Regions from separate parts of the Homo sapiens genome. Here region 1 is linked to region 2. Evidence: fine-mapped expression QTL. A gene starts in region 2. The other region holds a variant in brackets. All regions are shown on one strand. Distances are from middle to middle.

Evidence for each region. PIP is the estimated chance that this variant, and not a neighbour inherited with it, causes the effect.
Region 1: its variant is the best candidate, but not a certain one, in a credible set for the expression of NIPBL-DT in whole blood (INTERVAL, PIP 0.52).

Annotation. Positions count from the first base shown.
Region 1 is chr5:36,938,989-36,944,374 of GRCh38, forward strand. The region is part of intron 1 of NIPBL (NIPBL cohesin loading factor); the gene reads left to right. Among named protein-coding and RNA genes, the nearest start is that of NIPBL, 65 kb to the left of the region's middle. The variant A/C (reference allele first, on the strand shown) is at 2,468.
Region 2 is chr5:36,873,726-36,879,111 of GRCh38, forward strand. NIPBL-DT (NIPBL divergent transcript) reads right to left here and starts at 2,969. Exons shown (of 1, transcript NR_046262.1): 1 at 1-2,969. NIPBL (NIPBL cohesin loading factor) reads left to right here and starts at 3,044. Exons shown (of 47, transcript NM_133433.4): 1 at 3,044-3,453. RefSeq lists an enhancer at 2,340-2,389 and silencers at 2,800-2,909, 3,550-3,669.

The DNA of each region.
Region 1 (5,386 bases), 65 kb after region 2:
TAACCACACCTGCGCTCTTGTTGTTTGTTTTTTTCACAGGGTCTTGCTCTGTCACCCAGGCTGGAATACAGTAGTGTAGTCATAGCTTATTGCACCCTCAACCTCCCTGGCTCAAGTGATCCTTACACCTCAGCCTCCCAAATAGCTGGGACTACAGGTGCATACCACCACACTTGACTAATTTTTGTATTTTTTGTAGAGATGGGCTTTTGCCATATTGCCCAGACTATTCTTGAACTCTTGGGCTCAAACTATCCATCTGCCTCGGCCTCCTGAAGTTGGTATTACAGGCTTGAGCCACTGCGTCTGGCCCACTTGGGAGTTTTCAGCCCCTGGCAACCACTAATCTTTTCACCATCTCTACAATGTTATTATTTCAAGAATGTTACAAAAATGGAATCATGTAGTTTGTAGGCTTTTGAAATTGGTATTTTTTCTACTTAGTGTAATTTCCTTTATATCATCCAAGTTGATGTTTTTACCAATAGTTTTTCCCTTTTATTGTTCTGGCAGTCTGTAGTATGGCTCTACCATCGTTGGTTTAACCATTCTGCATTGAAGGACATTTGTTTCCAGCTTTTCGCTATTATGAAATTGTCTTAGTCCATTTTGTGCTGCTATAACAGAATATCTGAGACTGGGTAATTTATAAAAAACAGAGATTTATTTCTTATAGTTCTGGAGTCTGGAAAGTTCAAGATTGAGGGGCCCACATCTGACGAGGACCTTCTTGCTGTGTCATCCCATCATGGAAAGTGGAGGAGCAAGAGAGCACAAGACATTAGTGGGGAGAAATAGAAGGGGACAGAACTCTTCTTTTTATCAGGAACCCACTCCTGAGACAACAACATTAATCCATTTATGAGGGCAGAGTCCTTGTGAACTAATCACCTCTTAAAGGTCCCATCTCTCAACACTGTTGTATTGGGGATTAAGTTTCCAACAAATGAACTTTGGGGGACACGGTCAAACCATAGCACGAATAAAGCAGCTATGAACATTCATTTGCAGGTTTTTGCATGAACACAGTTTTCATTTCATAAATACCCAAGAATGTACAATTGCCCTTTTACTTAGCATTTAGATTTTTCCTTTAAAGTTTATTCTGAGGCAATTGTTTTCATACTCTGTTTGTGAGAAACTATTGTTCTTTCCAAGGCCTTAAAGCTATGACTAATTCTGTAAACACAGTTATTGTAATTTCAGGTTAATATTTTTAAGGAGTATATACAGCCTTGTGTGAAAAGAGAGAAATGGATTCAAAACTAAGCAATTTTTAAGTGTGCCATGTTTATTAACTAAGATATGTATGTAAATAACCAGTAGATTATTTTTTGAAGTAGCATGAGTCAAAATAAATCAAATTGAGAGCCCCTTCAGCTTGTCTGTCAGGTCAGGAATGAACTAATTTGTACGTACCTTTTCTCCCTCATCTTGTGTCAGTCCTTCACTATGTACCAGTTACATAATCTTCTTTCCTTAGCTAGGCTCTGTCCTTCTTCAGGGACTTGAGCATGTTAATCATTATGGATCCTCATTTCTTCTTCCGCCTTTGCCTGTTTAACTCTTACTTATGAGATTTCCTTAATGAGACATTTCCTCCCTCCCCAAACGTAAGTTTAGTTACCTTCTTTTTTTCTCTTGCAGCACTTTGTTTTGTTTTGTTTTTCATATAAAAAACAGCTAGGACTCTGGAATGTTAAGAGTGGGGATTCTGGAATCAGACTTGGGCAAGTTACTTAATCTTTATGTGCCTCTGTAATTATTGTCTTAAAATGAACATAAAAGTAGTACCTAATTCATAAGATAAGGATTAAATGAATTAAAATATATAAATCCCTTAGATAACAATGCTAGGCATATGTTAAGCACTATGTTAGTATCATCAAATGTTGTTGTTACTGTTATGGAATTTATCACAAATATGTAATTATATGTTTCGTAGTGATTATTCATCACCCCTACTGGACTCTAAGGTCTGTGAGGATATGTCTATTTGGTTTACCACTGTATCCTCAACAACTGCTGGTTGTCCCTATTGTAGGTGTTAGGTATTAAGTGCATGATAGTGAATACATAAAGGTTTACTTTTTTAAAAAAATTCAGGAAACCAGATAATCAAAAAGAAAGAAATTAATCACTTAATAAGTTTCATCTCCCAGGGATAAGAAAACATAGGTAAAGAGAGATTAAACTACTCCTTCAAGTTCAGGCAATTCAGTATTCTAATTGAAAGTGTTGTGTTTCCTTTTTAAGTCTAGTTTTGCTTTTGTGTTTATATGTCATAATTAATTGTGTTAAAACATAATTTTAGAAACCGATCTTTCTATATCCCTCTTTTCTATACCCCCCAATTTTACTTCACTTTCTTAAACAACAATAAAAGTCTCCTGTAACATAAGAAAGCTTTTCTTCCTAATTATCTTCTTTAGGTACTTTAAAAAAAATCAATCAGCTATCACATGTT[A/C]TGGACAAGGGGAATCACTATTGAGTTAATATCCTAAGACGTTCAAAACCCAGAACCAAAAAAAAAAAAAAAACCACCAAAAATGCTGTTTGGAGAGTTTCAGGTTTAATTAAAGAGTTTGTTCAGGTGTTTTTGCTGTTTGGAATCATTATCTGAGAAATTATGCTATAACACATGGTCATTTGATTCTGTTTCCATTAGCCTTCTACTCTGGGATATATGGCTACTACATTTTCTTTTTAATAATCTGTGTTTCACAGTAAGTTTACTTTTGTGGAACTCTATTATTAAATAAATCAGAAATCTCACTTAAAATTTAAAAAATTATTTTTCTAATGAAAAATTGATATTACAGAACTAAATTTTTAAAAGTTTATGTACAGAAAGGATATAGTATTTGATGTTATCAAAACTTACATGTTATGATTAGTTCATTGACCATGAGTATATTAATTTAGAAAAAAATACATCCCTAATTTACATCATCCTTAATTTGTATACTTGTCATGTAGTGCAGGGGTCCAGTGGAAATCATAGAAAGGTTGCTGTAGGTAATGAGTCACAAGTCACTTTTCTCCATTGATAGCTTCTTTTTCTGTAAATCGAACTATTTAAAATAATTTAAAAACTTAGATCCTTAGTAAAAAGCTGTTTTTTATTGGTCTAAGTTGACTTTTTAAAAATTTATTTTCCCTGGCCAGGTGCAGTGGCTCATGCCTATAATCCCAGCTCTTTGGGAGGCGGAGTGGGGCGGATCACCTCAGGTCAGGAGTTTGAGACCAGCCTGGCCAACATGGTAAAGCCCGTCTCTACTAAAAATACAAAAATTAGCCAGGTGGGGTGGTGAATGCCTGTAATCCGAGCTACTCAGGAGACTGAGGCACAAGAATGGCTTGAACCCAGGAGTCGGAGGTTGCAGTGAGCTAAGATCGTGCCACTGCATGCCAGCCTGGGTGACAGAGTGAGACTCTGTCTTTAAAAAAAAAAAAAAAAAAAAAAAAAGGCCAGGTGCGGTGGCTAACGCCTTGAAATCCAGCACTTTGGGAGGCCAAAGCAGGCAGATCACTTGAGGTCAGGAGTTCGAGACCAGTCTGGCCAAGATGGTGAAACCCCATCTCTACTAAAAATAAAAAAATTAGCTGGGGGGTGGTGGTGCACACCTGTAGCCCCAGCTACTTGGGGGGCTGAGGCACGAGAATCACATGAACCTTGGAGGCAGAGGCTGTAATGAGCCGAGATCGCACCACTGCACTTCAGCCTGGGTGACAGACTCTGTCTCAAAAAAAAAAAAAAAAATTATCCTCCCTAAAAAGCTATTCCAGTATCTTTTTTCACATTCATTAGTTATATTATTTAGTGGTTATATTTGGTTCTCTTGAACTGTTTTCTGAGTTTTTGAAACCAATTGCACAAATACAGCGCAAGGGAAACATGGTTTAGCAGTAGTAGGACTGAAAAAAAGTTTTAATTCTTGCTAACCTCACTGTGAGACTGTAGTATTTTGTACCTAACAAAAAATTTTCCGCAGTAATCTTTAGTTAAAAAAAAACCCTTCTATTACAGAAAACTATATAGTTGTTATATTGTAACTTCAAATTTTTGTTGTATTTTTTATTGTCATATTGTTTTTTCTCAAATATTTTCAGTCCACAATTTGTTGAATCCATGGATGTGGAACCTGTGAATACGGAAGGCCAACTGTACAAAAAAGATCCCAGAATTAATAAGTAAGGTTTAGTAAGCTTTCGGGATACAGAATTAATATACAATATTCTATTGTATTTCTGCATCCTAACAATTAACAATTGGAAATCAAAAATTTGTCAATTATAATAACATCAAAAATGTGAACTACTTAGGAATGAATCTGAAAAAGTATGTGAAAGCACCGTAGACCAAAAACTAGTAAACATTGCTGAGTGAAATTAAAGAATATCTAAATTAGTGGAGACATATAAATTGTTTGTAGATCATAATGCTCAATATGGTTATCAGTTCTCAAATTGTTACATAGATTGAATGCTATATCTATCATATTCCAAGCAGCTTTGTAGAAACTGACAAGATGATTCTAAAATCCATATGTAACTATAAAAAAAAAACCCTAGCATCAGAACAGTTTGGGAAGAGGGAATAAATTTGTACTAAAGCAGAGATATTGATTAGATAATTGGATATGAGTCTAGTATATGGGAGAAAAGTCAGATTTAGAGATACAAATTTGGGAGCCAGAAGCACAGAAGCACTATTTTAAAATCATGCCACTGAATGAGTTCAACAGTAGAGTACGGAGAGGAAGATAAAAAGAACCAGAAGAGGATCCTGGAGTGGCCAGTTTAGTCAGCAGAAAAACTAGGAGAATGTGTTGTTCTGGAAGACAAAGAATTATTCAAGGAGGAGAGAATGATCAACTTTGTTGATTTCTAGGTCAAATCATATGAGGTGAGAGGCTTGCCCACTGAATCTAGCAATTTTAATGTAATTGCTAACTGTGGCAAGATATTTGGTGGAATGGAGAATAAAAACACATATGGTTGTGGGTTCCAAGAGAAAGTAGGAGAAGAATTAGGGATGAATATAAACAACTGAGGGAATTTTGCTGTGAAAGGGAACAGAAAAATTAAGCCATTGTTGGAGAGAGATCATAGGGGTCAAGATAAATGGTGGGGTTTTTTTGTGTTTTGTTTTTATTGGAAGTAGGGACAATTATTTGCATATATATGTTTTATGCTGATTGGAATTATTCAATATGTGGAAAAATTGATGATGCAGGAGAGAGGAGAATTGCTGAAACGGTATTTTTGAATGAGTTAGAGCAGGATAGAGATCAGTATGCAGATGACACATAAGTGATCCATGATTTTTTGCATCTCTTCCACGTATACCTTTTCTTGATTGCTCTTTCATGTGCTTTATTAA
Region 2 (5,386 bases):
ATTTATGCAAGCAAAATACCATTTGATTTAATAGAGAAATACTGTGATATGAATTGAAACAATTTCTTTGATTCTATAACCTGGAAAAAAAATGGTATAAACTATATACAAGTTAAAACCCTCAAAGGCAGTGTTGTTTTCATTCACTGCCATGCATGAGATGTCTAGCATAAAGCTAATTAGCGCCTAATAAGTCCTCAATAAGGGAAGAAACTAAAAAAACTTAAAAATTTTAAATTAAATGACACAATAATGCCAAGACTTTCCAAAGCAGATTGACTGTAGCAGCTGCAGTTACCTGGACATGCAAAATTACTAGTTTACCAGTAACATTTAAGAAAGCAGACAAGAAGATAATTGTGCTTCTATTAGCGAATTGAAATAATGGTATTTTGAAACTGAGTGAAAAACACATTCTGAGTCATCTGTATTAACTTAAAGCTGTTCTGAAGATTAATGGGAAAAATAATAATGAATAGACGATTGGATTTACTAAACAATGTTTGATTAATTGTATTAATGGTTATAAAATACCTATCAAGGCTGTCTTTTCTTGTCCAAAAATTCAATACATGAAATATGAAAATTTGTAATACCATAGCCAAAGCCTTATTGCATAGCTTCTAGCTTACTGATATATTTACTTATTTTAATTTAAAAAGCCTGTTTTTCCAGCCACTAGGAAATAAGATTTCTCACGTTTTATAGTACTCAAAAATCATGATTAAGTATATCTAATGCTAACCTAAGTGTAAGCAAACAGCAAACTAAATGGTGAATTAAAATATCCACACCAAGCCTGACCTCAGCTTTCATTGAACCTTTTCTTCAGAAGAAAACTAAAAATAAATTTCACTAGCATTTGCTTTGCTTGACAGCATAATTGAGTAGCAACCAAAGTAGCCACATGTGGTCCTTTATGTAAGGCCTTCTAGCCTCAGAAACACACACCTTTTGAATTAGCGTGCCTGGTACCCATTTGTGCCCAATAAATACTTGCTGAATGAACTTTTCCAATAGTGCTGGATTTGCTCTGAGCCAACCAAATTCTCACTTTTAATGTATTTTGAAAGACAGAGGACGACAAGATGAAGAATGCAGTTTGAGACTCAGAAGAGCAAACATAATCGGCCCAGTATGGATATGATCATTTGATGCACTGTCCTCGGGCATGCTCATTTACAGAAGCCTAAAAACAAATTTTATCCCTCATTTGTGGGTTTCTGGTGTTGTGGAGGGCTTTCCAATGTTTAGAAGCAATATATTTTTATAGAATTCTGTAATAAACGTGTTTTAAATCTTTTATAAAGCTCTCTGTAGCATATAAGTACATATTAAAGACAGAAATGGGGGAGCATCAAGGCCCTTATAATCGCATTCATTCCTTAACCACATACTACGCATCTACTGTGTGGCATTCTAGGCGGGGGCCGTAACACCAGTGCAGAAAAACACAACCTCTTGTCCTCTTAGAGCTTACATTGCACTGGGGAAGGAGAGATAAGAAGATAAACAAGTATGGATATGTAGACTGTCCAAAGGATAAAATGAGAAGGGGGCTAGGGAACTTTCAGTTTAAAAGTAGCCGCGGAAGCACCGAGTGACACGAGCAAAATCCTGAAGGTGAAGGAGCAAGCCCTGTGGACGACGCTCAGGGAAGAGTCCTACTCGCAAGGATGCCAGGGCAGGCCCGCCCCCACCCTCAACGGCGCGCGGGGACTTCTGCCGCAGTCAAGGCTTTGGCTCACTCCCCTCAAGACGGGAAGCCATTCGCAGGGCCTAGAGAAAAGGAGTGACAGGATCTTGGCCCCCTGAGTGGCCTGAGGCAAAAGGAATAATCTAAGCAAGTTTTCCTACTTACTTTTAGCGCACTGGTACACACACAAATACACAATACAATTCATATAACACGAATTTCGTCCCGGTTGAGTAAAATTCCGCTTACCTACTGCACTTTTTACCGAAAATAGCCCCTTTTTAATTTACACAAACTTAATAGAGAACGGTGGAACAATGGTTACTTCTTGTTTTACAATTTAAAAACTACAACAACCATAGTACTGTACGTATAATCACATATTGTATTCCAGCCTTGTCCAGCGCCTCAGTTTTCCGAACCTAAAGAGGAAAACGATGTTTGAAATCAGCTGGCCGCAGGCCCGCGGGTCGCCCGCAGTCACCGGTGGCTGAGTCGGGGCCGGCGGTTCTCCCCGCGCGCTCGGCTCCACCCACACCTAGAGGGGGGCGCCCGGGCAGCCGCGGGCGAGCTTCTCGCTCGCGCAGCGTCGCCTACAGGCCTTTATCCTGACCGTTAGAGAAGAACCCAAACCTCTGCCGACAAAAAGCAAAAGCAGCGGAGACCGCGTATTTCCAGAAATAAACGCATCATCACAAACACGATTCCAATTCAATCCAGCCGACAGTCGTCTTCACCTCCAAAGGTTGCGTTCTTATTCGCAGAAATAACACGCAGTCGGGCGTAAGGTCCCGGCTCTCAAAAGGCAAGGTGTACGATCCATCCATCCACCCGGCTGCAGGGACACCATTTAAAACGGGCATCATCGCCATCGAATCGCGGGCGTCCTCTGTGGGGCCGCCCGGAGATCGGCTCCCTAAAGCTAACGACGACCTGGGACAGCCAGCGCGGCCTCCAGCCGCCGCCGTCGGCGACCTGAGAGCCCGTCCGGGCCTGAGTGCCCCCCACGCTCACGACCACCACCGAACTCGGGCCCCGCTCCTGTCGGCCTCCAGGAAAATAAAGACAGAGGAGAGCCGGCCCGCCTGTGTCGCAGGGCAAACGTCGCTCTGAAGCATCGACAATACTGGCAACATCCACAGCCGCCCTGAGGGGACGGGCGTAGAGGAGAGCTGCCGCCTCCCGGCTGCTGGGCCCGGGTGCCGCGCGGCGCGGCCGAGGACGCGAGCCCAAGTGGCGGCAGCGGCGGCTGCGGCGGTGGCGGAAGTGGAGTGGGGAAGAGGGGGTGGTTGTTAGTGTTTGGCGCCGGCGGAGGGAGTCATTCCTGCAGCTGCACTTCCGGTCGGCATTTTGTTCTGAGAGGGAGAGACGGAACGAGAGAGAGACACACACAGGGCTCCTTCCCCCCGCCCTCCCCCCCCTCCCTCCGTCGGTACCGACTCACCCGACACCACCAAGCCGCAGGGAGGGACGCCCCCGCCGACAGGAGAATTGGTTCCCGGGCCCGCGGCGATGCCCCCCCGGTAGCTCGGGCCCGTGGTCGGGTGTTTGTGAGTGTTTCTATGTGGGAGAAGGAGGAGGAGGAGGAAGAAGAAGCAACGATTTGTCTTCTCGGCTGGTCTCCCCCCGGCTCTACATGTTCCCCGCACTGAGGAGACGGAAGAGGAGCCGTAGCCACCCCCCCTCCCGGCCCGGATTATAGTCTCTCGCCACAGCGGCCTCGGCCTCCCCTTGGATTCAGACGCCGATTCGCCCAGGTAAATTCCTGCTCTTTATTTCGGCGGCGGCGGCGGCGGCGCCGGCGCCAGGTCCTCAGCGTCTCTCCTCCTCGCTCCCCTCCCCGCCGTTTCCTTAGCGGCCCCAGGTCTCTTCCACAGGCGAGTCTAGAGTTCGCTCCTCTCTGGTGGCAGCCGCCTTGGGTAGCGGTGGTTTTGTACCCTCTCCCGGCCGGCTCCGGTGGCGGGGACTGGGCTCCTGCTGGGCGGCCGGGGAGGCGTAGGCCCGGCGGAGAGTGCAGGCCGCGGGCCAGCGGAATCTACTTGAGCTCGGGGATTAGGAGAGCTCCGGGCTGAGCGGAGCGACTGCTGGTCGGTGACAGGCCTCGCCCGGGAGTGGAGCCGTAGCTAGTGGGGAGGCGGAAACAATACAACTAACAGCAAATGTGCCCTGATCGTCCCCATATTTACAACTTTCCCGGTCCGGGAGTGGGGAACGTCCCAGTGAAACAAACAACCTCCCTTCTTCCCCCTGTGACCCCATGAAGGGAGGAAGTAGTTTCAGTTAGTGAGACAAACGTAAATACTCAGACGCGGATCCAGTGGTAATTCTTTCTCTTTCTAAAACTTGTTTGGACGTTGGAAAGTTCATAAAGACTCATTTTCTTTTTTAAAGAATTAAATCGTCCACATGAATATTTAATACAGAAAAACATACTGTGGTAGACACTGCACATCTCCCCCTCCCCAAGAGCTTTTATCTTGTTGTTTTGACAGTGTGTTGTTGCACATGGACTTTTTATTCAAAGACAAGTATAAAGTACTTGACAGGTTTACTCTGCCACTTTCTATTTGTATGCGTTATGTAAGGGCAGTTTTAAGCGACTATACGTAAAACACTCAGGTACTTCCTGACCAAAACGTGTAGGAGCATACAAAGAATTTTAAGTGTTCTGAGAATTGTGCTGAGATACGGGTAAAACCACTTTTCTTTTCTTTTTCCAAAAAAGAAATTAAGTTATACTTAAAATCCTTGGGAGGTTAAAAAATTGTAGAAGGTGCCATCCTTTTATGTCAGGGCAGTTCTTCTTGAGGTCCCAGGATTGTCATTGGCTGTTTGTGCCATGATGTTTGACTGTGTAATGAGAGAGGTGTCATTTTAATAGGTTAAATGTATCTGTAAATGCTGGAGAAAAATATCAGTTCTAACTTGACAAGTTCTAGTTCATGAGTAAGTTAAGTGTTTCGAGCTTGTTTATGGAGGCGTTCATAATGTAGGTTGGTATAAGGGGGAAACACCAATTTAAAATTCCTCAGTCAGGCAAATTGCTAGAAAAGTGTACCTGGGTTACACGTTTTGATATTTTGTTTCATATTCGCTGAAGGAAAACTTTCATTGGTTAAAATGAAGCAGCACTGCTCAGCGAAATCCCTTGTTTTACTAGTGTTTGTTACATTGGTTCATATTTTTTGTGTCATTAAATTATTGTCACTGTAGAATAAGTTATTTTGTGGAGGTTATTTTTGAGTTTAGCGTCCTGATTACAATAAATTGTTTCACATTTCCTGCAAACGTACGGATAAATGTTTAAAAGAATGAAGTTAATATAGCTGTCACGTACTAGGCATGTTTTTAATGCTATAAATCCGTGTAGTAGTCAGTAGCGTGTCCGTGATTTGTATTGGTCAGGGAGCAGTTTGAATTTTAAAAAGCCTGAAGCTCCTGCTGAGCCCCAATCCCGGCCTCCCTCCCTCCCACTAATCTCCCATTCCTGTCTTTGTGCTGCCTGCTCCTGTTAGACACTGTTTGCTACGGGGCCTCAGGCCTACTGCGGGTGGGGGGGTGTGCGAGTGGGGGGCATGCCAGGGAGGGAATGCAGACGGGAGGAATACTTCACATCTTAAGAAAGCAGAGGGTTTGTTTTTTTGGGGATGGAGGTGGTAAGGGCTTCATTATAAATGTTTAAAAGGCCTT